5 separate regions of the Homo sapiens genome follow, and regions 2, 3, 4 and 5 are each reported to be linked to region 1. The links are microRNA targets in miRTarBase. Many come from high-throughput screens and were not tested one by one. Region 1 holds a microRNA gene; each other region holds the end of a gene's coding sequence.
What was found. Region 1 holds the annotated microRNA hsa-miR-4308 (UCCCUGGAGUUUCUUCUU, at 2,786-2,803, shown strand). A microRNA usually pairs through its seed, bases 2 to 8, with sites in the 3' UTR of a target mRNA and lowers its output. Matches are read on the target gene's strand: a 7mer-m8 pairs with bases 2 to 8, a 7mer-A1 pairs with bases 2 to 7 and ends in A, and an 8mer does both.

Region 1 (6,315 bases):
TTGAAGCTGGGAGGTGGAGGTTGCGGTAAGCCGAGATTGCAGCATTACACTCCATATATTATGGAGTATATATATATGGAGTATATATATATATGGAGTATATATATATATATATGGAGTATATATATATATATGGAGTATATATATATATGGAGTATATATATATATATGGAGTATATATATATGGAGTATATATATATATATGAGTATATATATATGGAGTATATATATATGAGTATATATATATGGAGTATATATATATATGGAGTATATATATATGGAGTATATATATATGGAGTATATATATATGGAGTATATATATATATGGAGTATATATATATGGAGTATATATATATGGAGTATATATATATGGAGTATATATATATATGGAGTATATATATATATATGGAGTATATATATATATGGAGTATATATATATATGGAGTGTATATATATATATGGAGTATATATTTATATGGAGTATATATATATATGGAGTATATATATATTTTATATATTATGTATTATATAATATATATTATATTATATATAAAATATATATTTTATAATATATTATTAATGAAATTTCTCACATATACAAGACTGTATGAACAAGTTTAATCAAAATACATTGGGTTTTGACAAATCTTAGTATTTTGCTATAATTGCTTTTAAAAAATACAGATAGTTTAAACTTCCTAGTTATCACTTCCTGATCCAGTTATCATCTCACTACAGAGGTAACCACTATACTGAATTTGGTCCCTAACTTTCTTTTTTTTTTTGAGATGGAGTCTTGCTCTGTTGCCCAGACTGGAGTGCAGTGGCATGATCTTGGCTCACTGCAACCTCCGCCTCCGGGTTCAAGCAGTTCTTCTGTCTCAGACTCCTGAGTAGCTGGGATTGCTTTCATGTCTTTTTTTTTTTTTTTTTTTTTTTTTGAGACAGAGCCTTACTCTGTCACCCAGGCTGGAGTGCTGTGGTGCAATGTTGGCTCACGGCAACCTCCGCCTCCCAGAATCAAACGATTCTCCTGCCTCAGCCTCCTGAGTACCTGGGATTACAGGCATGTGCCACCACACCCAGCTAATTTTTGTATTTTTAGTAGAGATGGGGTTTCACCATGTTAGCCAGGCTGGTCTTGTACTCCTGCCCTCATCGGCCTCCGAACGTGCTGGGATTACAGGCGTGAGCCACTGCGACCGGCCTCATGTCTATTTTTATACTTTCATTTTCTGTATATGTTTACAAACAACATGTAACATTGTTTTTACTTAATTTAAATGGCTCATACTCTACATATCCTTCTGCTACACGCTTTTTACACTGAATATCCTTTCAAGGATTTATAAATGCAGCCCAAATTTACTGACTTTCATTGCTGGGTCATATTTTATTGTGAGTTTACCCAAACTGTGTAATTGTTCTTCTGATTCACTCTTCTCTATTTTTGCTATTACCAACAAGATGGCAGTGATTTTTTTTTTTTTTTTTTTTTTTTTTTTGAGACAGGGACTTGCTCTGTTGCCCAGGCTGGAGTGCAGTGGTGTGATCTGAAGTCACTGCAACCTTCGCCTCCCAGGTTCAAGTGATTCTCGTGCCTCAGCCTCCCAAGTAGCTGGGACTACGGGTGCATGGCACCACATCCGGCTAATTTTTGTATTTTTAGAAGAGATGGGTTTTCACTATGTTGGCCAGGCTGGTTTTGAACTCCTGACCTCAATTGATCCACCTGCCTTGGCCTCCCAAAGTGCTGGGATTACAGGCGTGAACCACTGTGCCCAGCTGAAAATTCTTATGTTCCCTTGGCTGCATGAATTTCTTTGGAGTCCCTTCATTTAAAAATGTATTTTAAGGAAGTGAATTGGTCCAGCGTGGTGGCTCACACCTGTAATTCGAGCACTTTGGGAGGCTGAGGTAGGAGGAGCTTGAGCCCAGGAGTTCAAGATCAGCCTGGGCAACATAATGAGACTCTGTCTCTACAAAAAAATAAAAAATTAACTGGATATGGTGGCATACCTCTAGTCCCAGCTACTGGGGAGGCCAAGGTGGGAGGATTGCTTGAGTCTGGGAGATGGAGGCTACAATGAGTGGTGATTGCACTGCTGCACTCCAGCCTGGGTGACAGGACGAGACCTTGTCTCAAAAAGAAAAAAAAGTGAATCATAGAGTAAAGACAGACATATTAATTGAATAAACACAGAAGATCTATGTTTAACTCCAGCTTTGTGCATGGTGTTACAGGGAAGTGTGTAGAAGCTCCAAAGCCTTCAGATATAATGCTTAACTCAGAAACTTATAGCCCAGTGTGTCTGTGGGACGTGGGCACAAATAACCATGGTACTACGAGGCATGATGAGATAAGCGCTGTATGCTGGTGGAGGTAGCTCTGATATTAGATGGAACTATGAGGGTCTGGACCATTCTCCACCAAATCAGGATAGGCTTATCTTTGTTAGCACCTTGAGTTGATTTAATTCCAGCCAAAAGCAGAGGTGTGATGCCCTAGGCACTTCTCTCTGTCTCTTCTCTTAATTTTAAAACCAGTAGGCAGACTCCATTAGCTCTTTCCTATCCTTTAGGATGGATGCTCACTCAGATGTTCCAAGTCATCTTCCACTGTCTTTTAACTCTGTCCTTCCAGGGAGATGCGTCAGGTGTCCGGCTTCCTCAGAGAGCTGGAGTTGTTGGTGCTGATCACCAGATACTCCAGACGGCACTAATTCCTATACTATGGGTTCAGAGGGAACTCCATTGGACAGAAATTTCCTTTTGAGGAAATCTTTCCCTGGAGTTTCTTCTTACCTTTTTCCCTCACTTTCTCCACAGCAGAAACAGGTCTGTTTGTCCTTAAATATTTACCTATATATTTGAGTAGGAGCATTTTGAAGAGATGAAGTTTCTGTGTAGCAGCACAAAACATGAAATAGTTCAAACCAGGGGCACTCTGGTTCTCAGACCGGGAGCTTCAGGATCTTCTGGGAACTTGTTAGAAATGCAAATTCTCAGGTCTGCTCAGATCACCTGAAACAGAAGCCCTAGGGGTGGGGCCTAGAGATTTGTGTCTTAACAGGCCCACAGCGGGAGTCTGGGAACCCCTGTTTCGAAGTATGCTTAAATAAGCACTTGGGGGCCAGGCATGGTGGCTCATGCCTGTAATCACAGCACTTTGGGAGGCCAAGACAGGCAGATCCCTTGAGCTCAGGAATTTGAGACCAGCCTGGGCAACATGACGAAACCCCATCTCTACAAAAAAATACAAAAATTAGCCAGGCATGGTGGCTTGCGCCTGTAATCCCAGCTACTCAGGAGGCTGAGGTGGGAGGATCACCTGAGCCTAGGAGGTGGAGGTTGCAGTGAGCTGAGATTGTGCCGCTGCATTCCAGCCTGGGCAACAGAGGGAGACCCTGTCTCGAGAGAAAAAAAAAAGCACTTGGGCTTGTATTGTGGGCCTGTCTTACTATACTTTCAGAAAAGGGTCTGGCAGACTAAATACTTGAGGGATGTTACCCAGCAGTGTTATTTGTTGACATTGCTTAATTATGAATGACATGAGAAAGGTATACCTGAAAACTGACATTGTGTGGTGTTGTTGTAGACAAACCTTTAACTTGTGGAGGCTGCTTTCATTTTGTTTGTGGTTGTGACCAACCGTAGGAAACAGAATGCCATAAATCCCTGTTTCCAGGGTTACCTTCTTGCTGCTGATAACAGGCAGGAAATTAAAACAATATGTGATAGTGTTCTGTTCTTATTACCTACAGATGGTAGCTTTTAGATATGTTGGAGCAAAACATAAGTAAATATAGCAGGGAAACTTTATTACTGAAGAAAAATGATTTGGCTAGGTCAAGGTTATAGTCTGGTTCATTTTAATAAAATGGGGCATAGGCAACATATCAGTGTTCCATTATCACATGAAGCATTTAGCTGTATGAGGATCACTAGATTTTTTTTCTCTTTGATTTAATTTTGAGTATGTAAAACATTTACATGATTCCAAGGTCAAAACTGTGTAACAAATTATATTCAAAGATGCTTCCCTTTCATCCATATCCCTTCTGTCTCTTCTCTTACTGCTTTGCAGGTAATCATTTTTACTAGCTTCTGAATTTATCCTTCCAGTGTTTCTTTTTGCAGATAAGCATATACATTCATATGTATATGTCATATGTTCATAGCTCCTCCTTCCACTTTCATTACACAAAAGGCTACATACTATACTACAATTTTAAAAATTATTATTATTATTATGATTTTTAGAGACAGGGACTTGTTCTGTCACCCAGGCTGGAATGCAGTGGTGTAATCATAGCTCACTGCAGCCTCAAACTCCTATCCTGGGTTCAAGGGATCCTCCTGCTTCAGCCGCCTGAATAGCTAGGACTATAGGCACATATCACCATGCAGTACTTTATAATTTTTTTTTTATTATTATACTTTAAGTTTTAGGGTACATGTGCACAATGTGCAGGTTTGTTACATATGTATACATGTGCCATGTTGGTGTGCTGCACCCATTAACTCGTCATTTAACATTAGGTATATCTCCTAATGCTATCCCTCCCCTCTCCCCGCACCCCACAACAGGCCCCGGTGTGTGATGTTCCCCTTCCTGTGTCCAAGTGTTCTCATTGTTCAATTCCCACCTATGAGTGAGAACATGCGGTGCTTTTTGTCCTTGCAATAGTTTGCTGAGAATGATGGCTTCCAGCTTCATCCATGTCTCTACAAAGGACATGAACTCATCATTTTTTATGGCTGCATAGTATTCTGTGGTGTATATGTGCCACATTTTCTTAATCCAATCTATCATTGTTGGACATTTGGGTTGCTTCCAAGTCTTTGCTATTGTGAATAGTGCCACGGTAAACATACGTGTGCATGTGTCTTTATAGTAGCATGTTTTATAATCCTTTGGGTATATACCCAATAATGGGATGGCTGGGTCAAATGGTATTTCTAGTTCTAGATCCCTGAGGAATCGCCACACTGACTTCCACAATGGTTGAACTAGTTTACAGTCCCACTAACAGTGTAAAAGTGTTCCTGTTTCTCCACATTCTCTCCAGCACCTGTTGTTTCTTGACTTTTTAATGATCGCCATTCTAACTGGTGTAAGATGGTATCTCATTGTGGTTTTGATTTGCATTTCTCTGATGGCCAGTGATGATGAGCATTTTTTCATGTGTCTTTTGGCTGCATAAAGGTCTTCTTTTGAGAAGTGTCTGTTCATATCCTTGAGAAGTGTCTGTTCATATCCTTCACCCACTTTTTGATGGGGTTGTTTGTTTTTTTCTTGTAAATTTGTTTGAGTTCATTGTAGATTCTGGATATTAGCCCTTTGTCAGATGAGTAGATTGCAAAAATTTTCTCCCATTCTGTAGGTTGCCTGTTCACCCTGATGGTAGTTTCCTTTGCTGTGCAGAAGCTCTTTAGTTTAATTAGATCCCTTTTGTCAATTTTGGCTTTTGTTGCCATCACTTTTGGTGTTTTAGACATGAAGTCCTTGCCCATGCCTATGTCCTGAATGGTATTGCCTAGGTTTTCTTCTAGGGTTTTTATGGTTTTAGGTCTAACGTTTAAGTGTTTAATCCATCTTGAATTAATTTTTGTATAAGGTGTAAGGAAGGGATCCAGTTTCAGCTTTCTACATATGGCTGGCCAGCTTTTCCAGCACCATTTATTAAACAGGGATTCCTTTCCCCATTTCTTGTTTTTGTCAGGTTTGTCAAAGATCGGATGGTTGTAGATATGCGGCATTACTTCTGAGGGCTGTGTTCTGTTCCATTGGTCTATATCTCTGTTTTGGTACCAGTACCATGCTGTTTTGGTTACTGTAGCCTTGTAGTATAGTTTGAAGTCAGGTAGCGTGATGCCTCCAGCTTTGTTCTTTTGGCTTAGGATTGACTTGGCAATGCGGTCTCTTTTTTGGTTCCATATGAACTTTAAAGCAGTTTTTTCCAATTCTGTGAAGAAAGTCATTGGTAGCTTGATGGGGATGGCATTGAATCTATGGCCATTTTCGCGATATTGATTCTTCCCACCCATGAGCATGGAATGTTCTTCCATTTGTTTGTATCCTCTTTTATTTTATGGAGCAGTGGTTTGTAGTTCTCCTTGAAGAGGTCCTTTATGTCCCTTGTAAGTTGGATTCCTAGGTATTTTATTCTCTTTGAAGCAATTGTGAATGGGAGTTCACTCATGATTTGGCTCTGTTTGTCTGTTATTGGTGTATAGAAATGCTCGTGATTTTTGCACATTGATTTTGTATCCTGAGACTTTGCTGAAGTTGCTTATCAGCTTAAGGAGATT
Region 2 (5,897 bases), not on the chromosome of region 1:
TCAAATCTCAGTAAGCACCAGAAAACTCATACCGGAGAAAAGCCCTACATTTGTTCTGAATGTGGGAAGACCTTTCGACAGAAGTCAGAGTTGATTACACATCACAGAATTCATACTGGAGAGAAACCTTATGAGTGCAGTGACTGTGGGAAGTCTTTCACTAAAAAATCACAGCTCCAAGTGCATCAGCGAATTCACACTGGAGAGAAGCCTTACGTGTGTGCTGAGTGTGGGAAGGCCTTTACTGACAGGTCCAATTTGAATAAACATCAGACAACACACACTGGAGACAAACCCTACAAGTGTGGCATCTGTGGGAAAGGCTTCGTTCAGAAATCAGTGTTCAGCGTCCATCAGAGCAGCCACGCTTGAGAGAAACAGTGTGAGAAAACCCCCCTGAGGGTTGGGTCTGATTGTACACTGTTGCACGCATGCAGCAGAAAAATATGTATATTATTGTAAATAGAAATGACCACAGCAGAATGTCACACATGGCTGTTCTGGAGAGGGCCTCTGAGAAGGCACTGAATGAGGCGAGGGACCCTTCCTACATTGTCACCATCCCCAGTAAACCTTGGGTCATTATTCATACTGACAAGGAACCGAGTCAATTTGGTGAATAGGAAAAGCCTTCTCATGAAAACTACAATAGAATACTGTTACCAAATTCTTCCTAAGAAAGATCGTATTAAGTTAACGATAATCCTGTTTACTGTGGATTAGGTATAGTGCCAACAAATTGAATGATAAAACAACATAATACGTAGTTATTTTGATAGTGATGAATCCTAAGTTATGTGAGTTGTTCGTTGTGGAACACATTGTGTAACAGACTCCTGGGTGTTTTTCTTTCTCATTCGAATCTACCACAGTTGGTCATATCCAACCCTCATTCAGTATTTCTATCAAGAAAGAGATGCTACAAAAAAAAAAAGAAAAAACCTTTATGTATACAGACGTAAACCTCAGAATGTATGTTGAGTCCCCACTGTCATCTACCAAGACTTGCACCCCCCTCATTATCTACCATGACTGTCTCTCAGCCTCACGGGCCCTCAGCACTTTGTGTTTTGACCCCCAGCACCGTGTCTTGTGAACTCCCATCACCTTCAAGAAAGCTTCCGAGGTAAGAATTTTATGGTCATCTGGGACAACTTAAATCTCCCTTCTGCTGTCATAGTTCTTCCAACTCAGTTGCCTTTTTTTTTTTTTCGTACTCATCACTGACTTGAAGCTTAGTATCTGGCTTCCTTAAGGATGTAACTTTCATGTAACAGATTAATAACTTATATGAAAACCAACACAACCATATGTTTAGGGCTGGAAAGGGCCATGACGCCTGGCCATTTTTCCTGTTTTACCTTACTCTTATGTGTGTCACACTTCATCAATTCCGGAAACAGTTTCTGGAGATCTCCTCATTACCTCTTTTACAATCACCTCACTCCAGCATGGTGTCTGTTACCTCTTCCCACTTGTGACAATGTCTAGTAAGGTCCACTCTCCATTCTGTGTGATGACCACTTATTACAACCCTCAGAATAGGGGACAGTGGTGTGCCCCCTGCAATACAATGGTTTCTATCTCCTGATACTTTTATTACACCTCTAGCAGGATGTCTTGTGATCCTCCTTATTGATTTTTCCCTCACGATGATGAACAATTATCTCCCGTTACTCACCTAGCAGTATCTAACTGTCCCTAACACAGCATGTGGGAATGCCCTCAATACGGTGGATGCTGTTAACTTTCTTCCTTCCCCTCAGGCAATGGCGGTGACTTACAATGAACCATAATGTCCACATTTCCCAACTGTATTTTGGAGCCTCTTCTGTCCCCTTCTTTCTAGGACCCCAGTTAAAAAAAAAAAAAACAAAAACTAGCCCAATGTCTGTTGATGCCCATTAATCACTAACACAGTGTCTGACCCCTCCATTAAATTTTGATGGTATCTCTTGGCTCCCCATTGTCCCGTTAACCCAATGTCTGCTGATTCCCAATTTCCCACATTGCTTCATGCGGTTCCTTAGTCACCCTTGGCTACTGTACTTCCCCCAAGATTGCATCTCCATGTTTGCATGGTCATGATCCCTGGAAGATGGTGATGAGGATGAGGTCCCAGCCTCATAGACCTTTTCCTCTGAGTTCCCCCCAAGGCACAATGGAATGATGGACCCAGGGTGGGCCAGGGATGATCTGGAGATCTCAGGAGACCACAAGCTGGGCTTCCTGTCTACTACATGAGTATGGTGTGAGCAGAACAGTGAAAGCTGTCTATGTTGGTTCAAATTCTGGTGCCAACACTGATCCACTTAGGGACCCTCAGCCTGCCCAGAAACCTCCTCTGGGCCTCAATTTTCTCACTTGTAAAATGGGATTATGGGAGAATGAAGTGACTTTTTTTGGGTCACATGATGGATGGGATCCAAGCCAGCAGGGCCCAATGACAGCATCCTGTTAATATTAGTCATCAGTCAACATAAGCATCTGACTATCCTCTGTATGCCCAAGCCTCATGAAGGGAAACAATTTATTGTAAATGACTTTTGATTATTTCTCTTATATATTTATTGTAACAATATTATAATACTTACGTATATGTATATGCATATACCCGTATATACGGAAGGCTTTATTTTTTAGAGTAGTTTTAGGTTCAAAGCAAAATTGGGTAGAAATTACAGAGGTTTCCCATATATCCCCTAATCCACATATGCATAGCCTCCCACATTATCAGCATTCCTCTCAGAGTAGTATATTTGTTACAATTGGTGAACCTCCACTGACACTCATTACCACCCCAAGTCTATAGGTTATATTAGGGTTCATCCTTGGTGTAACACCATAGAATGTGTCTTGTACTTTCTGCTTGTTGGAGCAAGTGGATCATGGCATGTTTCCACTGTTATACACAGAGTAGTTTCACTGCCCTAAAAATCCTCTGTGTTCTGCCTGTCATCCCTTCATCTCCTCTAATCCTGGCAACATTTTTTCTGTCTCCATAGTTTTACCTTTGATCTTTTATATCATATAGTTGAAATTATACAGTGTGTAGCCTTTTCAAATTGACTTCTTTCACTTAGTAATGTGGATTTCAGTTTCCTCCATGTCTTTTCATGGCTTGATAATGCATTTCTTTTTAGAGCCAAATTATGTTCCATCGTCTGGATGTTTATTTATTCACCTACTGAAGGACTGTTGGATGCTTCCTTTTGGCAATTATGAGGAAAGCTGTTATAAATATCTGTGCAGGCTTTTTGTGTGGACATAACTGAAATATTTTTAAAGTTATATTTATTGAGGTATAATTTACATTCAGTAATAGTCACACTTTTTAGTGTAGAGTTCTGAGTTTTGACAGTTGTATCTAATCATGCAATCAACACCACAATCAAGATGAAGAACAGGCCCCTCACTTCCCTAACTTCTTTCCTATCCCTTTTTAGTCCCTTTTCCCACTCCCAGCCCTTGGCAATCACCAGTCTGTTTCCGTCTCTATAGTTCTGCCTTTTCCATAATATTGTATAAGTGGAGTCCTTGTGTGTGTGTGTGTGTGTGTGTGTGTTTTGTACGTGTATGTATATCTCCTTTTGAGTCGGAGTGCTTTCATTTAATGTGATGTATCTGAGATTCATCCATATGGTTCTATGAAAAACAAATGGAAAATAAGGTGATGAAAAGATGCTCAACATCTTTAATTATCAGGAAAATGTAAATCAAACCACAATGAGATACTACTATAGAATGGCTTTTAGAATGGCTAAAAATGAAAACGTGCCATAAATTGGCAAGAATACAGACCAATGGAAATTTTCATGCATTGCTTGTAGGATTGTAAAACGGTCTGTCCACTATGCACAAAAGTTTGGCAGCTTCTTATACTATTAACCATACATTTATCATATGACTCAGCAACTCCACACTTAGGTATTTACCCTAGATGAAAGAAAAATTCTGTTTACATGAAAACCTATACTCAGATGTTCACAGCAATTGTATAATTGCCCAAATTAGGAAGTAACACAAATGTACATCAGTGGATGAGTGATTAAACAAATTGTGTACACCAATACTATGGAGGGCTGCTCAGACATAAAGAAATGATTTATTGACACTTACTACAACATGGATGAATCTCAAAAGTGCTGTTGTATTTTAGGTAAACCATGTGATAACTTGAATTACATTTGATAAAAGATTTATAAGTGTAAAAACTAGATTTATATATTTTAATTTTATATGTGCCTGTCATTACATACTATAGAAAATTGTGTCTACAGTATGTTATATAGCATATTGTAATATTTATTACTGTATATTCCTTGTGACAATAAAATAGTTTGTATTTTATATAATAGTACCTGTTTTATAGTATATGTTTTATTTTATATGATTACCTAATTTTAATATTTTACATATCAAACTTTCACATAATATTTTGGTTATTTCTACTTTCACGTAGTTGCATTTAATGTTTGTAGTGTAAAGATATAACTACAATAAAAGAGGCCAGAGAGTCTGCAGTTGGAGTTAGTCAACATTTTTATTTGTCAGGCATCTCAATTCTGGCTGTTTTAACATCAAGGATCTTTTCTCTGGCTTTGGGCCTTTGCACCGACTGTTCTGAGAGTGCTCTGCTTCTCCAGTGCCCGTGCATCTTGCTTTCCTCTTCCACCTTTGCAGTGCCTCCATCCCCATCTTATCCTGCCATTGAAGTAACACATCTGTAGAGCTCACTTGCTGCTCCCTTATTTTGTATGATATTTGCATTGCAAATACTATTACTATCTGACCTGATTCAATATTCCTTTTTTTGGTTTCTCATCCCTCTTCCCCACTGGACCATCAGCCTCATGAGAACCAGACTTTGTCTGTCCTGTTTCTGCTGTATACCAGGCGCCCAGCACGGTGCCAGCTCAAAGCAGATGCTCAGTACAAGCTTGTTAAATGGATGAATGAATAATAGCAATAATATCGAGGTTGACCAGATGCCCCGCACAGATTGGTAACATGTGTGGGGAAGTTGGTGGGGTGGGTTTGGGTCCTCTAATTCAAGATTTAATGCCTCCTCCCACCATGGTCCAGCACACCCAGCTCTAACTCCATGTCAGGGCAGTACCAAACTGAGTATCCTACCTACATACATTCCACACTGTTTACAAGATCTAACTTAGCCTCCTCCTGGTCACAGTGGCAGGTCACATAGAGGGGGAAAGGGGCAGGAGTGGGGGATCCATAGGCAGGGGGCCACTCCCATCAGCATCTAGCCTAGCACTTTCTATCCTGCACCCCATTGTCAGTGTCACCTGCCCCACCTCCTCCACTGGAGCAGCCACTGGAAAATATAGAACCCCAGGAGCAAGAGGAATGTGGCAGGGCTGAGGGTTCTGGGGCTCAGGCACCTTGTTGGATAATGGATGTGATGCAGTGTGGCAGACATTGACCCCGTGGCCAAAGTCAGCTTAAAGCCAAGGTTGTCATGGACACTTCCCATAATGCCAGGATGAATCACACCCTCCACCCTCAGCTCTCAAATGGGCTACTAGTGCCAATGTGACTATTTTTTATTTTTATTTTTTTTGAGATGGAGTCTCACTCTGTTGCCAGGCTGGAGTGCAGTGGTGTGATCTTGGCTCACTGCAACCTCTGCCTCCCGGGTTCAAGTGATTCTCCTGCCTCAGCCTCCGAGTAGCTGCGATTACAGGCACCCACCACCACACCCAGCTAATTTTTTGTATTTTTAGTAGAGATGGGGTTTCACCATGTTGGCCAGGATGGTCTCAATCTCCTGACCTCACGATTTGCCCACCTCGGCCACCCAAAGCATTGGGATTACAGGCCTGAGCCACCTCGCCCAACCCAGTGTGACTATTTATGGTATATCCTACACCTCCCCA
Region 3 (4,000 bases), not on the chromosome of region 1:
TCAGAATATATGTTGGCCGTTAACACATGACTGTACATACATTTCTAGGAAGGGTACAAGAATATTAAAACTTAATTTTACTTCTCACAGTTTACCCTTCTATATATAATTTGTATTTCTTAAAGTATTGGTATGTGTTTTTGAAACCTTTTTTTTTTTTGAGATGGAAGTTTTGCTCTTGTTGTCCAGGCTGGAGTGCAATGGCGCGCTCTTGGCTCACTGAAACCTCTGCCTCCCGGGTTCAAGCGATTCTCCTGCCTCAGTCTCTGAGTAGCTGGGATTACAGGCGCCCGCCACCACACCCGCCTAGTTTTTGTATTTTTAGTAGAGACGGTTTTACCATGTTGGTTAGGCTCGTGTTTGAACTCCTGACCTCAGGTGATCCATCTGCCTCGGCCTCCCAAAGTGCTGGGATTATAGGCGTGAGCCACCGCACCAGGCCTCAAACTAATTTTTAGTCTTGGTTTTTTCACCCCTTTACGTATCTTGGTTTTATCTGGCTTACAGACTTTAGTCAATTCTGAATTAGGAAAGAGTTCTTGTTTGATATGACCAAACCTTTCCAACTGGAGACTGGGGAGTTGTGGAGAGGCTCTTATAAACTGAAACATAAGAAACCATCATTATTCTTACAATTCTACTGAATTGTAAACATTACTGAAGTAGTATCACTAAAGGACTGAGCTGAACCAGGTTACAGGGTGGTATCCAGGAGTTTGAGATCACAGCTTCCATTAAGAGGATCATAGCTTCCACTCCTAAACCCTGCCCAATAATCTCACAGAAGCCAGGTGCAATGGCTCACGCCTATAATCCCAGCACTTTGGGAGGCTGAGGCAGGCGGATCACTTGATGCCAGGAGTTTGAGACCAGCCTGGGCAATATAGCGAAAGCTTGTCTCTACAAAAATTACCTAGGCGTGGTGGCGTGCGCCTGTAGTCCCAGCTATTCAGGAGGCGGAGGTGGGAAGATGGCTTGAGCCCAGTGGCAGTTGCAGTGAGCCGAGATCACGTCACTGCACTCCAGCCTGGGAGACAAAGCAAGACCCTGCCAATAAAAAGACTGCTGAGTGAGTGTTCATTCTTCCAGCATCTACTAAACACCTGCCCTAACATGGGCATGTGGAAGTTCCAGCATCCCAGAGACCTTCACACATTACAGCTCTTCACAGGGCGGGTAGTTGAGCAGTTTGAGGGAAAGCAGATTCTAGCCCCCTCAGCTGGGGAGGTTTCCCAGTGTCCTAAACCTTGGCCTCCTGCTTCTCTTTAGTGGCCCTGCTCCTGCTTAACACAGTAGTGCTTGTCACATGTTAGTCGCTGCCATGGATTTCTCAGGTTTTCAACATCATAACTACACTCCAATTCTCTGCACCCCTTTGGCAGGTGAGGCCAATAGAAAAATAACAGCACAGTTGAGTTTAAAAATGTAGTTTGTAGCAGGTGGACAGGTAAAGAGCTGGGTTAAATGACACCTCCACCTATCCTAGCTGTATGAGAATAAAAAAACTCCGAATCCTTCCTGAGAGGATTGAGCTGGCTAACCCTATGAAGTACATGGTGTCTAATGCCTGCCCCCAAGGTTTAATACAATATTTAAGACTTGCCTTTTGAAGTTCCCCACTGTCAACCTCCCCAGTTCTCCACCCATCTTCCCATGTGAGCTCTGCCTTAGCCACGCAATGGCCAGTCCTCCCTACAATGAGTCCATTTCCTTTATTCTCAATTTAAATTCAAAGTGGGGAAAAAGTGCACTTAAGAATGAATCATCCATTTTATTTTATTTTGTCATGTGCTCAACAGCATCTCTCTCTCTCTCCCCTCTCCCTGGCAGGTCACAGAGATAAATTAAAAATAAAATCTACAAGGAAAATAATTTATAAAAGCACTCCCAGGTTCACACCTTCTATCCCTACTGCTCAGTTAGGCACCCCCTAACTGGGAATCAGTGCTTCCCCCCACCCCCATTTCACTCCCACTTGTCTGGGGCAGACGGTACTCCAGAGCCGGGCAGGGGTGAGGGCAGCAGTGGCAAACAGTTAAAAATAAAGACATTGTAGTCCTGGAACCATCTGGCCACCTTGGCACTCCCATGTCTGCCTCCCCCAGGCAGCCCTCCAGGAGCCTGTGCGAAGCTGGGGCTGTGGAGAAGCTGCCTGTGGCTGAGAGCTTGTGTGTTTGGGGAGGTGCTCTCAGCCTGTCATATGCACTTCTCAATCTTCTAGAAAGAAACCCAAAAAAGAAAGCAGACGACGACCTCGGGACAGAGGAGAAAAATCCCAAGTGTTCACACAGTTACACGGAGTCTTTATGGCAAAGAGAACATTTAGCAGCTTTGAATATTGGGCATCTCCTTTTTACTCAACACAAGCATTCTAGACCCTATAAGTGAAACAGGGCACAAGCCCTAAAAAAATCAAAGCGCAAGAAATTCTAAGAGGACTAGTTCTTTTGTTGTTGCTGGGTTGTGTAATTTTTTGTGTTTTCCCAGTGATAAGCCCAGTTGTTGGTAGGCAGAGGCCCGAGGGAAGGGTGACTCCCCAGTGTTGTGCTGAATCCTGCCTGGAGGCTGCTACACTAGATTCTCCATCATTCCTCTGCCTCACAGCAGTCCCAGAAGAGGAAGGCTGCAGGCCCAGTTCCCGGAGCACTGCCATCACCCTACCCCAGCTTACAGAAGAGCTCAGGCAGTCTGTGAGGGGTGGGGAACACAAACACCGGACCAGGGGAGGACGGCATACACATGCAGGCTCTGATGGAGACAATGGGAGCCTCAGCTCAGGGGTGGCTGGAGCACGGAGGGAGATGGAGTGGCAAGGCAGTGAATGACATGCGTGATGTTGGGGCTGTTGCAACATGGGACCACGTGACCCTTTCCTGTTCACTCTACCCTTTGACTCTAAATCTCAAAGCCAGTGTTGGGGCCCAGTGGCTCCATTCGATTGAAACATGGCCAATGATATCCAAGAGCTCCCCTTCAGGGATGTCAAAATGCAAGGAGCAGAAAGAGTTAACACCGTCCCTCCCCACCCCCACCCTGTGTCTGTGTACCCCACCCCCCCCGGGGTGAAAATTGGGGTTTATCACACCAGTGATCTAGGCCCACCAGTCACTCCAACCTGCTGCCTGGAATCCTGGCCAGAGCCAACCTTAACCTTCCCTCTGATTTTCTTCCCGCTTTGATTTTTTTTTCGGGGGGGGGGGGGTTCCTTCCTTCCTTCCTTCTATCCCTCCTTCCTGAAATGAGACTTTCTGCCACCTTCCCTTCCTCTCACAGGTCCATTCCTTCCCCTCTGTCGGCCTTTGCTCCACATAGCTCCTCTACCTCCAGCAACTCCACCACCACCCCTGCCTCACAGGAAAGGGGTAGGGTGAGGACCCTGTCCGTCTAAATGGTCTGGCCACTTCCACTCCACCCGAGTGGAGCTGAGCCAGCCAGTGCCTGCCTCTTCCTGTACACTGACCCGCAGTCATCCCATCTGAGAAGATATATTGGATAAGAAGGCATTTAAGTCCCCGCTGTAGGTCCAGGTCCAGGTCCAGGTCCAGCCCTTCTCCAGTTTCGGTCTTGGTGGGCTTCAAACCCCCTTCTTCCCCAGGCTCACTTTCTCCGGTCCTTTGGCTTCCTCTCCTGCCGCCGGGCCTGCTGGTCGGCCATCGTGCGGGGGATGAGGAGGACACTGCCGTCCCCGGCGTACTGGAGCGCATACTGACTGGGCGAGTAGGGTCGTCCGTTCTCATCTCGCAGCCGCCCAAACACCTCCTGGTACAGGCTCTGGACCTTCTGCTTCATCTGTCGCAGGGAGCGCAGGAACTCCACTTTCTCCCGCAGCAGCCGGGCTTTGTCACGCTGCAGGTCCTCCACATCACGCTCCAGATTCAGGATGGTGTCCAGCTTGCGCTTGCGGCAGTTCTGCGCCGCCATCTTGTTCTTGCCCCGGCGCCGGATGTCTCGGATGAGGCTCAGCTGGGCTTCACTCAACTGGTATTTGGACAGCAGTTCA
Region 4 (4,948 bases), not on the chromosome of region 1:
GTGGCAAGATCTTGGCTCACTGCAACCTCCGCCTCCCAGGTTCAAGCGATTCTCCTGCCTCAGCCTCCCAAGTAGCTGGGATTTCAGGCGCCCACCACCATGCCCGGCTAATTTTTGTGTTTTTAGTAGAGACGGGGTTTCACCATATTGGCCAGGCTGGTCTCGAACTACTAAACTCAGGTGATCCACCCACCTCGGCCTCCCAAAGTGCTGGGATTACAGGCATGAGCCACTGCGCCCAGCCTATATTATATATATTTTATAAAATATATATATAGTGGCTTGGTCTCACAACTCAACTCTAGCATAGCATCATATGATGCGTAACATTATCCTTTTTTAAATTAAATTAAATTTTAAAAAATTATTTTTAGTAGAAACACAGTTTTCCTATGTTGCCCAGGCTGGTCTTGAACTCCTGATTTCAAGTGATACTCCTACCTTGGCCTCCCAAAGTATTGGGATTACAGGTGTGAGCCACCACACCTGGCTACAAACTTCCTTAACTTAAACATTCCTTTCTGGTAACTCCAAGTTCTTAGACCACACTTTGTTCTTCTAAACAATTACAAATTAAATAATCTCTGGCCCCGCACGGTGGCTCACGCATGTAATCTTAGCACACGCCTGTAATCCCAGCACTTTGGGAGGCTGGGGCGGGTGGATCACTTGAGTTCGGGAGTTCAAGACAGGCCCGGCCAACATGGTGAAACGCCGTCTCAACTCAATTGCACCACTGCATTCCAGCCTGGGCAACAAAGCAAGACTCTGTCTCAAAAAAAGAAAAAAAAGACTCTCTGAACCCACCTATGACCTGTATTCCTCTGCTTCAAGATATCTTGCCTTTTGGGACCAAACCAATGTATAACCTCCATGTATTGATTGATGGCTTTTTGTGTAGCTTCTGCTTCCCTGAAATGCATAAAACAGAGTTACATTCTGACTGCCTCAGGACTACTTACTCAAGGTTTCCTGGGTTTGTGTTTTCTCCAGGCCACGGTCACTTCACATTGGCTCAGGTTAAACGTCTCTGAAATATTTTTCACAGTTTGTTTTTTTACATTAAGTGCTGGGATTACAGGCATGAGCCACCGCGCCCGGCCACAAAGGTTTTTTTAAAAATGTAGTTTTTTAAAAAACAAAGGTTTTTTTAAAAAACCTTTGTGGCCGGGCGCGGTGGCTCATGCCTGTAATCCCAGCACTTTGGGAGGCTGAGGCGGGCAGCTTACCTGACGTCAGGAGTTTGAGACCAGCCTGACCAACATGGAGAAACCCCATCTCTACTAAAAATACAAAATTAGCCAGGCATGGTGGCGCATGCCTGTAGTCCCAGCTACTCGGGAGGCTGAGGCAGGAGAATTACTTGAACCTGGGAGGCAAAGGTTGTGGTGAGCCAAGATCGCGCCATTGCACTCCAGCCTGGGCAACAAGAGTGAAACTTCGTCTCAAAAAATAATAAATAAATAAATAAACCTTTGCATGTTGTTATACTGCCCTGAAGCAGTGATTCTGAGAAGGGTCAGTCTCTAGGCAGTAGGCCAAACCAGTGAGATCATAATGTCTGGTAAGATCAGTGTCAGTCTGTTTTCTGTTACTATAACAGAATATCACAGATTGGGTAATTTATAAAGAAAAGAAGTTTATTTAGCTCATGGTTCCGAGGGCTGGGAACTGTGGAGGGGCCGTATCTGGCCTTCTTGCTGTGTCATAACATGATGGAAAGCATCACATGGCAAGATGGCAAGAGCATGCATGTCAGCTCAGGTCTCCCTTCCTCTTCTTATAAAGCCATCAGTCCCATCATATGGGCACCAACCCCCATGCCATGTATAACTTTTAACTCCCCAAAAATGTAACTACTAATAGTCTACTGTTGACCAGAGCCTTACTGAAACAGTCGATTAACACATATTTTTTATGTTATACATATTAGACACTATATTCTTATAATAAAGCTAGAGAAAATATTAAGAAAATCATAAGAGAAATTATATTTAGTAAATATAATTCACTATATTATATGGATCATCATAAAGGTCTGTATCCTTGTCATTTTGTTAAGCAGGCTGAGAAGGGGAGAGGAGGGAGACTGGTCTTGCCATCTCAGGGGTGACAGAGGCAGAAGAAAGTCCATAAGTGGACCCACACAGTTGAAACCCAAGTTGTTCAAGGACCTCCTGTAATCTCTAAGAAGGTTCAGACTTTCCCTAGTCTTCTCTTCTAAGCCTTGGCCAAAATCACCCTTAATGCTCCATTAGATAATACAGGCTTTGTCTGACCTGATCTTCCAGATTTTTCAAGCCTCTACCCATTACTCAGTTCCAAAGCCACTTCTACATTTTTATGTAAATGTCAGAGCAGCAAACCTACTTATGGCTATCAATATTCTGTCTTGTTACATTTTGTGTGGCTCTAACTGAATACCATAGACTGGGTAATTTATACAGAATAGAGGTTTATTTAGTTCACAGTTCTGAAGGCTAAGAAGTCCAATATAAAGGTGCAGGCATCTGGTAAGGGCTTACTTGCTGCATCATGACATGGCAGGAGGCATCAAAAGGCAAGACAGAGCAAGCATGTGTCCCAGTTCCAGTTGCTCTTCCTCTCCTCATAAAGCCACCAGTCCCATCATGGAGGCTCCACCCTGATGAACTTGGCTAATCCTGATCACCTCTTAAAGACCCCCCACCCAGTACTGTTACAATGGGGATTAAGTTTCAACAAGAATTTTGCTGGGGATATTCAAACAATAGCAATCTGCACACTGAAAACATTTCTTGGTGTCATCAAAACAGTTCTTTATAAAACTAATTTAAAAGTGCCACCAATAAAATTCAGATTTAATCATAGGGAAATCTGGAGTAGGTGTGAGGACATATCCAAGGGCCTGCATAGTAACTCATCAGGAATGGACTCACTTCTGAGAAACTACAGCAAGTCATGGTCAGGTTTCTCTTCTTTGCCTCTGGTGCTCACCAGTGTGATGCCAACAAGTTCCATCCATGTACAGCTTTAGAGATTACTATACTCAGGCATCTACCCTAAAGGGTACAAGTCCAAGTCACTTTTTGTACCTACATATATGAGTGGGTACTGAAATTCAACAGATATGAAAAGGAATAGAGGCTGGACATGGTGGCTCAAGCCTGTAATCCCAGCACTTTGGGAGGCTGAAGTGGGAGGATCATTTGAGTCCAGGAGTTTTGAGACCAGCCTGGGCAACATGGCAAAACTCTGTCTCTACAAAAAATACAAAAATTAGCTGGGTGTGGTGGTGTATGCCCCCAGGGCTCAAGCAATCCTCCCACCTCAGCCCTCTGAGAAACTGGGAGGCTGCACTACCTCCCAGCTTCTTGGGAAGCTGAGGTGGGAGGATTGCTTGAGCCTGGAAGGTCAACACACTGCAGTGATCCATGATCGCACTACTGCAATCCAGCCTGGATGACAGAACAAGAACCTGTCTCAAAAAAAAAAGGAAAATGAAAATAGAGAAGGAACCCAAATTGAAAAACCATATCCCCTTCCAATAAAGCTCAAAGACATAATTTTACATTATTGCTATCAATGCCAACTCATCACTTCATTTTCTTTTTGCATAAAAGGACCCTCATAATTTTTTATACTATCAAGGTAATAAAAAATTCCAAGTCTTACATTCTTTCAGTGAGCCTTGCCCCTGGTCCACCAAATGGCCCTCCTTAACTCCTGAAAGCAGGCCAGATGCAGTGGCTCATGCCTGTAATCCCAGCACTTGGGAGACTGAGGCAGGTGAATCACCTGAGGTCAGGATTTTGAGACCAGCCTGGCCAACATGGTGAAACCCTGTCTCTACTAAAAATACAAAATTAGCGGGGCGTGGTGGTGCATGCCTGTGGTCCCAGCTACTCGGGAGGCTGAGGCATGAGAATCACTTGAACCCTGGAGGCAGAGGTTGCAGTGAGCCAAGATCACACCACTGCAAACAGCCTGGGTGACAAGAGTGAAACTCCGGCACCACCCCCCACCCCCTAAAAAAAAAAAAGCTCTTGAAAGCAATCATTGGACACTTTATCTGATTATGTTCTCCCATAGGCTTTGCATTTCTCCTAGTCTCTAATTATAATGCCCCATCTCATCATAATCATAATGCCATATGCCCTAAACCCCAAAATGTTCTGCAAACTCTTCCAACTCCAGTAGCCCCAGAAGAGAGATGCAGACTGATAATACAGCCCAAATGTGGACACGATAAAGAATAAGTACTGCCATTTCCTACCGGGGGATAAAAGAAACTAATCAAACATGGTCCTTAAGCGTGAGAATTTAAAATGAAGTTAGGAAAACAGTAACAACTTATACAAGACAAGACCAGAGGAATATCAATAGACACAATCAGGAGACCAGTGGAATCCCTAACTTGAGGTGCAAAGGATTTTGAGAACGTGACGGGGCTTACAGGGAGTGAGACAAAGGATTCGGGCTCTGAAGGGATGACTTCCCAGGAAAAGCGAGATCCTGAAAAAAATGTGCTATTTGGACAGGTGAAGGGTTGGCCTTTTCAGATGAGGGAAGCAGCAGGAAGAAAGGCACAGAGGGAGGAAGTACCACTGCATGTGAAGAAGATAAGGGAGGCCCTGGTGGGGCTAGGGCAGAGCAGGTATGTTGGGGAGGCAGAGGAGAGAGGATGGCGCAGGGACAGTAGGGCTTAACTGCGGATAGCCCTGTTCCATTGATGAGTTTCTTCCTAGTATGCCACTTCTGATGCTGGATGAAACTTGCATTCCATCTGAAGGCTTTCCCGCACTCCTTACACTCATAAGGTTTCTCCCCAGTGTGAACTCGCTGATGCTGAACCAGAGTGATCTTTTGACTGAATGTCTTCCCACATTCCTGGCATTCATAGGGTTTCTCCCCATTGTGGATTCTCTGATGCACTATGAAGCGGGAGCTACAGCTGAAAGTTTTCCAA
Region 5 (6,315 bases), not on the chromosome of region 1:
CACACATCCAGAGCAAACCCACACTTCCTTAAATCTTTCTCCAAATCCGATACCAGCACTAACACTGCTTTTGGAGATGCCCTGGCTTCCCCGTGCTGTGTGGCCTCCCTTGCCACAGCAAGCATAATAAACCCAAATTTGTTGACTGCAGGCGTGTTCCTGGTGGTCTGATTGACAGGCATCAACGTGACCATGGAGGGAGTGACGGCTAGAGAATTTCAGGGTTCACAAGATGAAGCCAGTGACTCATGAACTAAGCTGAAATCTCTCAGCCTAATACTTCCCTTTCTCTCACAGCAACTCTCCATGATAGATTAGAACTGTTCCAACTTGGCTGGGCATGGTGACTCACGCCTGTAATCCCAGCTATTTGGGAGGCCAAGGTGGGAGGATTGCTTGAGCCCAGGAGTTTGAGACCAGCCTGAGCAACATAGTGGGACTCCATCTCTATTTATTTATTTATTTATTTTGAGATGGAGTTTTGCTCTTGTTGCCCAGGCTAGAGTGCAATGGCGCGATCTCAGCTCACTGCAACCTCCACCTCCCAAGTACAAGGGATTCTCCTGTCCCAGCCTATCAAGTAGCTCATATTACAGGCATGTGCCACCAGGCCCGGCTAACTTTTTTGTATTTAGTAGAGATGGGGTTTCATCATGTTAGTCAGGCTGGTCACGAACTCCTGACCTCAGGCTATCTACCCGCCTTGGCCTCCCAAAGTGCTGGGATTACAGGCATGTGCCACCGTGCCTGGCCTCTTTTTTTTTTTTTTTTGAGACGGAGTCTCGCTCTGTCACCAGGCTGGAATGCTATGGCGCAATCTCGGCTCACTGCAACCTCCGCCTCTCAGGTTTAAGCAATTCTCTTGCCTCAGCCTCCTGAGTACCTGGGATTACAGGTGCGCACCAACACACCCAGCTAATTTTTTTGTATTTTTAATAGAGTCGGGGTTTCACCATGTTGGCCAGGATGGTCTTGATCTCTTGACCTCGTGATCTGCCTGCCTTGGCCTCCCAAAGTGTTAAAATTACAGGCATGAGCCACCACGCCCGGCCTCTATTTTTATAATACATTTTATATATATATATATATATATATATTTTTTTTTTTTTTTTTTTTTTTTTTTTGAGATGGAGTCTTACTCTATCACCTAGGCTGGAGTGCAGTGGCGCAATCTCAGCTCACTGCAGGCTCTGCCGCCCAGGTTCAACCGATTCTCCTATCTCAGCCTCCCAAGTAGCTGGGATAACAGGCGCCTGCCACATCGCCTGGCTAATTTTTGTATTTTTAGTAGAGATGGGGTTTCACCATGTTGACCAGGCTGGTCTTGAACTCCTGACCTTGTGATCTGCCTGCCTCGGCCTCCCAAAGTGCTGGGATTACAGGTGTGAGCCATCGCGCTCAGCCAATAAATAAAATGTTTTAAACTGCTCCAGATGAGAACATCAAGGCTGAGGGTTACTAACTTGTCCACGCTATTGAGTACAGAGATAGGTCTGAGATCTGGGTGGCCTGTCACCAAGCCAGTGCTCTTTCAGGCCAACTCTTTCTGGGCCTGTGCTCACCAAGTGAGCCCAGGGGTCAGTGTGCAAGCTTGAAAAGGGAGAGCAGCCTAGTTATGTGCAGGGAGCACGCCCTGGGGGTGTTTTTTTTTTATTTTTGAGACAGGGTATCATTCTGTCACCCAGGCTGGAGCGCAGTGACACAATCACGGCTCACTGCAGCCTCGACCTCCTGGGCTCAGGTGATCCTCTTACCTCAGCCTCCCAGGTAGCTGGGACTATAGGTGCACACCACCGTGCCCAGCTCATTTTTCATAGAGACGGGGTTTCGCCATGTTGACACGGCTGGTCTCAAACTCCTGAGCTCAAGCCATCCACCCACCTCGGCCTCCCAAAGTGCTGGCACTGCACCCAGCCTGACTGTTGATTCTTATTTTTTTGAATCAGTCTATCACCCAGGCTGGAGTGCGGTGTTGTGATCTCAGCTCACTGCAACCTCTGCCTCCCAGGTTCGAGATTCTCCTACCTCAGCCTCACGAGTAGCTGGGCCTAGAGGCAAGCACCACCATGCCCAGCTAATTTTTGTATTTTTAGTAGAGGCGGTGTTTCACCATGTTGGCCAGGCTGGTCTGAAACTCCTGGCCTCAAGTGACCCGCCCACCTCAGCTTCCCAAAGTGCTGGGATCACAGGCATGGGCCACCACGCCCGGCATGAGTGTTAATTCTTAAAGCATTTGGCAGCCCTACTGAGGCTCCTGCAGCCAACCCCATCAGTGGTGGCCTGTGTCCAGGAGAAGCACACCCAGTGAGTTGGCCGGCCCCAGTGCTGGGCATGAGGCAGGAAATGAGCCCCTCCATCTGCTGAGCTGAGCCCCAGCACTCTTCGGACACTCCCGCCACAGCGAGCAGATGCCCAGGGCTACTACCAAACGCCAGCGTTTACCTGTGTGAGAGCCTACACACAACATGGAAGAGCTTCTAACACTTATGCATTTATTTTCATGTGTAAGAAGAAAAACGTAACTAGCACGTGAACATGACTGCATGGATACACGGCTCAGCACGAGGCTAAAGTCAGAAGTGAGTGAAAACAAAATAGCATGTTGATTTAAGTGAAATAACAGAACAGGAGGCCTTTGGTTATAACAATTGTGGAGGTGGTCTGTGAATGCAGAAGTTCGGGACTCCCTGCTCTAGGCTCAGGGCAAGACGCTGTGGTCTGGGCCGAAGCCCCTGGGGTTCTACAGAGAAGCCTGCCCAGTGCACGGCCCCTGTGGCATTCTCGTGGGAGCGTGTGAGACCCCAGGGAGGGAAGCACATTCTGTTTAACTTGTCCGTGCCGTACAAAATGTCTTAGAAGTGATAAAGCAACAATGATGATTCTCCTTCAAAGGGAAGAAGAATCTTCCAGGTGTGGTCTTGAGGACGCAGAGGTTACAACACAGGCTGGGCTGCAGGGCCCAAGTAGGACTTGAGGTCATAACCAGAGGACTGAAGGGACACCTGTCCTGGCACCATACTGGAGAAGTGCTTGTTTGTGTTTGGGGGAGAGGGGGTGCATGGCCCAAGTCAAGGCTGAAGGAGGAACGCTTGGCCCCTGCACCCTGTTCCCAGCATATACCAGGCTCTCACCCCATGCCTGCTGACTCAACACAGCACCCGGGAGGTGCCGCCAGAAGGCAGGTCGGGGGATGCTGACATCCCGGGGTGTCTGCGGACCACCCTCTCCTCTTGGGTCTGGGCCCTGGCCCCACTTTGCACCACACATTCCAGGGCGGGGAAGTCCATGGCTGTGCCCCAACTGGGTCCCATTCCTGTACATGTGCGAACCAAGGGGGTGTTTGCTATTATGCTCCCCACTAAATCCAAAGAATGTTGGTTCCCATCATTTCAACCTCAACATTTTCAAAAAGCACTTTTTTTTTTGGAGACAGAGTCTCGCTGTGTCTCCCAGGCTGGAGTGCAGTGGTGCCATCTCAGCTCACTGCAACCTCTGCCTCCCGGGTTCAAGCAATGCTCCTGCCTCAGCCTCCTGAGTAGCTGGGATTACAGGCGCACGCCACCACACCCAGCTAATTTTTGTATTTTTAGTAGAAACGGGGTTTTGCCGTGTTGGCCAGGCTGGTCTCAAACTCCTGACCTCAAGTGATCTGCCTGCCTTGGCCTCCCAAAGTGCTGGGATTACAGGCATGAGCCACCACATCCGGCCTAAAAGGCACTTTTTTTTTTTTGAGACGGAGTTTCCCTCTTGTTGCCCAGGCTGGAATGCAATGGTGCAATCTCACTGCAACCTCTGCCTTCCAGATTGAAGCAATTCTCCTGCCTCAGCTTTCCCCAGTAGCTGGGATTACAGGCACCTGCTACCATGCCTGGCTAATTTTTGTATTTTTAGTAGAGACAGGGTTTCACCATGTTGGCCAGGCTGGTCTTGAACTCCTGACCTCAGGTGATCCACCCACCTTGGCCTCCCAAAGTGCTGGGATTACAAGCGTGAGCCACCATGCCCAGCCTCTAAAAGGCACTTTTTAAGGGACCTTGGAGTTTGTCCTCAAACAGCTCAACCCCACAGGCGAGGCTGGTCCTAGCACCCCTACCAGACAGCTAGTCAGTGAGAGGGGTCCAACCTCCCCCAGCTTTTCCCTGGAAGTGGGGCAGGGTCAGCAGGGAATTCTGGGGGTGAAGCTCATGGTCCAGGAGCCTTCTGGTGCCCAGAGGGTAGAGGAGTGGAAGGCCTGGGGGTGCTCAGCCCCACTGTATCCTGGACAGGCTGGGCCGGCTTGCAGGCTGGTCTCCATGGAGGCTCAGAAGGAAAGTGTGCAAGAGCAGGTTAGGAAGGGAAACCAAGTCAGGGAAGGGCCCCAGCCGGGGCTAGTGGTCTGTTCACTGCCCAGCGGGCACTCTCAGCAGCACCCCGCAGCACTCCGCTTCACATGGCATGGCTTGCAGAAGAGATGGTTGTTCAGGGGGTAGCAGCCTTGGTCCGTGGGCTCGACAGACAGGAGGATCCTGCAGTCCTGGGGAGACAAAGACACATGCTGACCCGCCCTGGGCCTGGGCGCTGCCTGCACAGGGGAGGGACTCACTTGGCATCTGCCGAATAAACCAACTGCATGAGTGGATGCCCTTCCTAAGTGGGAGGAAGGAGGCTGCTCACTGCTGCCCTCCCAACACCCGGGCCAGGTCTCCATAAGGGAAGATGAGACACAGACACACATGGAGGCTTTAATCCACGTGGAGGCGCCGGTGAGGACAGACATTCACCGTCAGGAGAACTAAGGACACCTGGGGAAGTCCCCTGAGGGTTCAGGGAAAGTTGGGGCTAGAAGAGTCTTAATAGCTCCTTTATTATTTTTTAAAATTTGTTTTTATCATTTATTTATTTTGAGACAGTCTTGCTCTGTCGCCCAGGCTGGAGTGCAGTGGCACGATCTTGGCTCACTGCAACCTCTGCTTCCCGGGTTCAAGCGATTCTCCTGCCTCCCAGGTAGCTGGGATTACAGGCGTGTGCCACCACACCCAGCTAATTTTTGTATTTTTAGTAGACAGGGTTTTGCCATGTTGGTCAGGCTGGTCTCGATCTCCTGACCTCAAGTGATCCGCCCACCTTGGCTTCCCATGCTGGGATTACAGGTGTGAGCCAGTGCGCCCGGCTTCAATAACCCCTTTAGAACATAAATTCTGGGCGGGCGCGGTGGTTCACGCCTATAATCCCAGCACTTTGGGAGGCTGAGGCGGGCGGATCACAGGGTCAGGAGATAGAGACCATCCTGGCTAACACGGTGAAACCCCATCTCTACTAAAAATACAAAAAACTAGCCGGGCGTGGTGGCGGGCGCCTGTACTCCCAGCTATGTGGGAGGCTGAGGCAGGAGGCAGGAGAATGGCGTGAACCCGGGAGGCAGAGCTTGCAGTGAGCCGAGATCGTGCCACTACACTCCAGCCCGGGTGACAGAGCGAGACTCCATCTCAAAAAAAAAAAAAAAAAAAAAAAAGAACGTAAGTTCTACGAGACAGGAACCCTGTTTAAGGCCAAGTCCCCATCCCAGCACAGGCCATGGGTATCTGCTGATGAGTGCCTGAATCTAGTCCAGTCCCTTCATTTCACAGGTGGGATACCAAGGTCCAGGGAGGAGTGGGCTCTGCCCCAGGTCACACAGCTGGTTCTGGAGCTGGGACCAGACTGGGTCTCCAGGATCTGGCTCCAGGGGCCTTTCTGTGACTCCACAGCCCACACAGCTTCAACACCAGCACAAACATTAATATTTTCTATTTTTCAAATCACCAAAGGATTTCAGAATGAGGAACACAGGGACTCGGGGCCCAAATTCTACCAACGTCACTGTTCTGCCCCAGAAACCTCACCTGGGCACATGCTAGAGAATAACAGGGGGGACAATTTGCGCGCAGAGACTTGGTTCTGGGCACCCTTTGGAAGCTGCACTGATCCCACAAAAGAGTCCTTATAGGGGGCCAGGCGCAGTGGCTCACGCCTGTAAGCCCAGCACTTTGGGAGGCTGAGGCGGGCGGATCATGAGGTCAGGAGTTTGCGACCAGCCTGGCCAACATGGTGAAACCCCGTCTCTACTAAAAATATAAAAATTAGCCGGGCGTGGTGGTGGGTGCCTGTAATCCCAGCTACTCATGAGGCTGAGACAGAATTGTTTGAACCCGGGAGGAGGTTGCTGAGATCGCGCCACTGCACTCCAGCCTGGGAGACAGGGCAAGACTCCGTCTCAAAAAAAAAAAAAAAAGAGTCCCTATAGGGACTACTTTGGGGTCACAGGTGGCCCTCCTTATGCAGTAGGGACCAGGGTCT

Region 2: miRTarBase lists ZNF585A as a target of hsa-miR-4308. Seed matches in the 3' UTR shown: 7mer-A1 at 2,186-2,192.
Region 3: miRTarBase lists NFE2L1 as a target of hsa-miR-4308. Seed matches in the 3' UTR shown: 7mer-A1 at 1,821-1,827.
Region 4: the mRNA of ZNF619 is a reported target of hsa-miR-4308. Seed matches in the 3' UTR shown: 7mer-m8 at 3,917-3,923.
Region 5: miRTarBase lists FBLIM1 as a target of hsa-miR-4308. Seed matches in the 3' UTR shown: 8mer at 4,137-4,144.

What each region holds. Positions count from the first base shown.
Region 1 is chr14:54,874,611-54,880,925 of GRCh38, reverse strand. It overlaps MIR4308 (microRNA 4308), which reads left to right and starts at 2,733; the gene lies at 2,733-2,813. All of the region lies in intron 1 of GCH1 (GTP cyclohydrolase 1), which reads left to right.
Region 2 is chr19:37,146,064-37,151,960 of GRCh38, reverse strand. ZNF585A (zinc finger protein 585A) reads left to right here. Exons shown (of 5, transcript NM_001288800.2): 5 at 1-5,897. The coding sequence ends at 372. Among named protein-coding and RNA genes, the nearest start is that of ZNF585A, 24 kb to the left of the region's middle.
Region 3 is chr17:48,059,239-48,063,238 of GRCh38, reverse strand. It overlaps NFE2L1 (NFE2 like bZIP transcription factor 1), which reads right to left. Exons shown (of 6, transcript NM_003204.3): 6 at 1,694-4,000. The coding sequence ends at 3,598. Among named protein-coding and RNA genes, the nearest start is that of NFE2L1, 13 kb to the right of the region's middle.
Region 4 is chr3:40,487,725-40,492,672 of GRCh38, reverse strand. ZNF619 (zinc finger protein 619) reads right to left here. Exons shown (of 5, transcript NM_001145093.4): 5 at 1,620-4,948. The coding sequence ends at 4,432. Among named protein-coding and RNA genes, the nearest start is that of ZNF619, 13 kb to the right of the region's middle.
Region 5 is chr1:15,782,746-15,789,060 of GRCh38, reverse strand. It overlaps FBLIM1 (filamin binding LIM protein 1), which reads right to left. Exons shown (of 9, transcript NM_017556.4): 9 at 2,472-4,513. The coding sequence ends at 4,400. Among named protein-coding and RNA genes, the nearest start is that of UQCRHL, 22 kb to the left of the region's middle. RefSeq lists enhancers at 1,141-1,905, 1,906-2,670.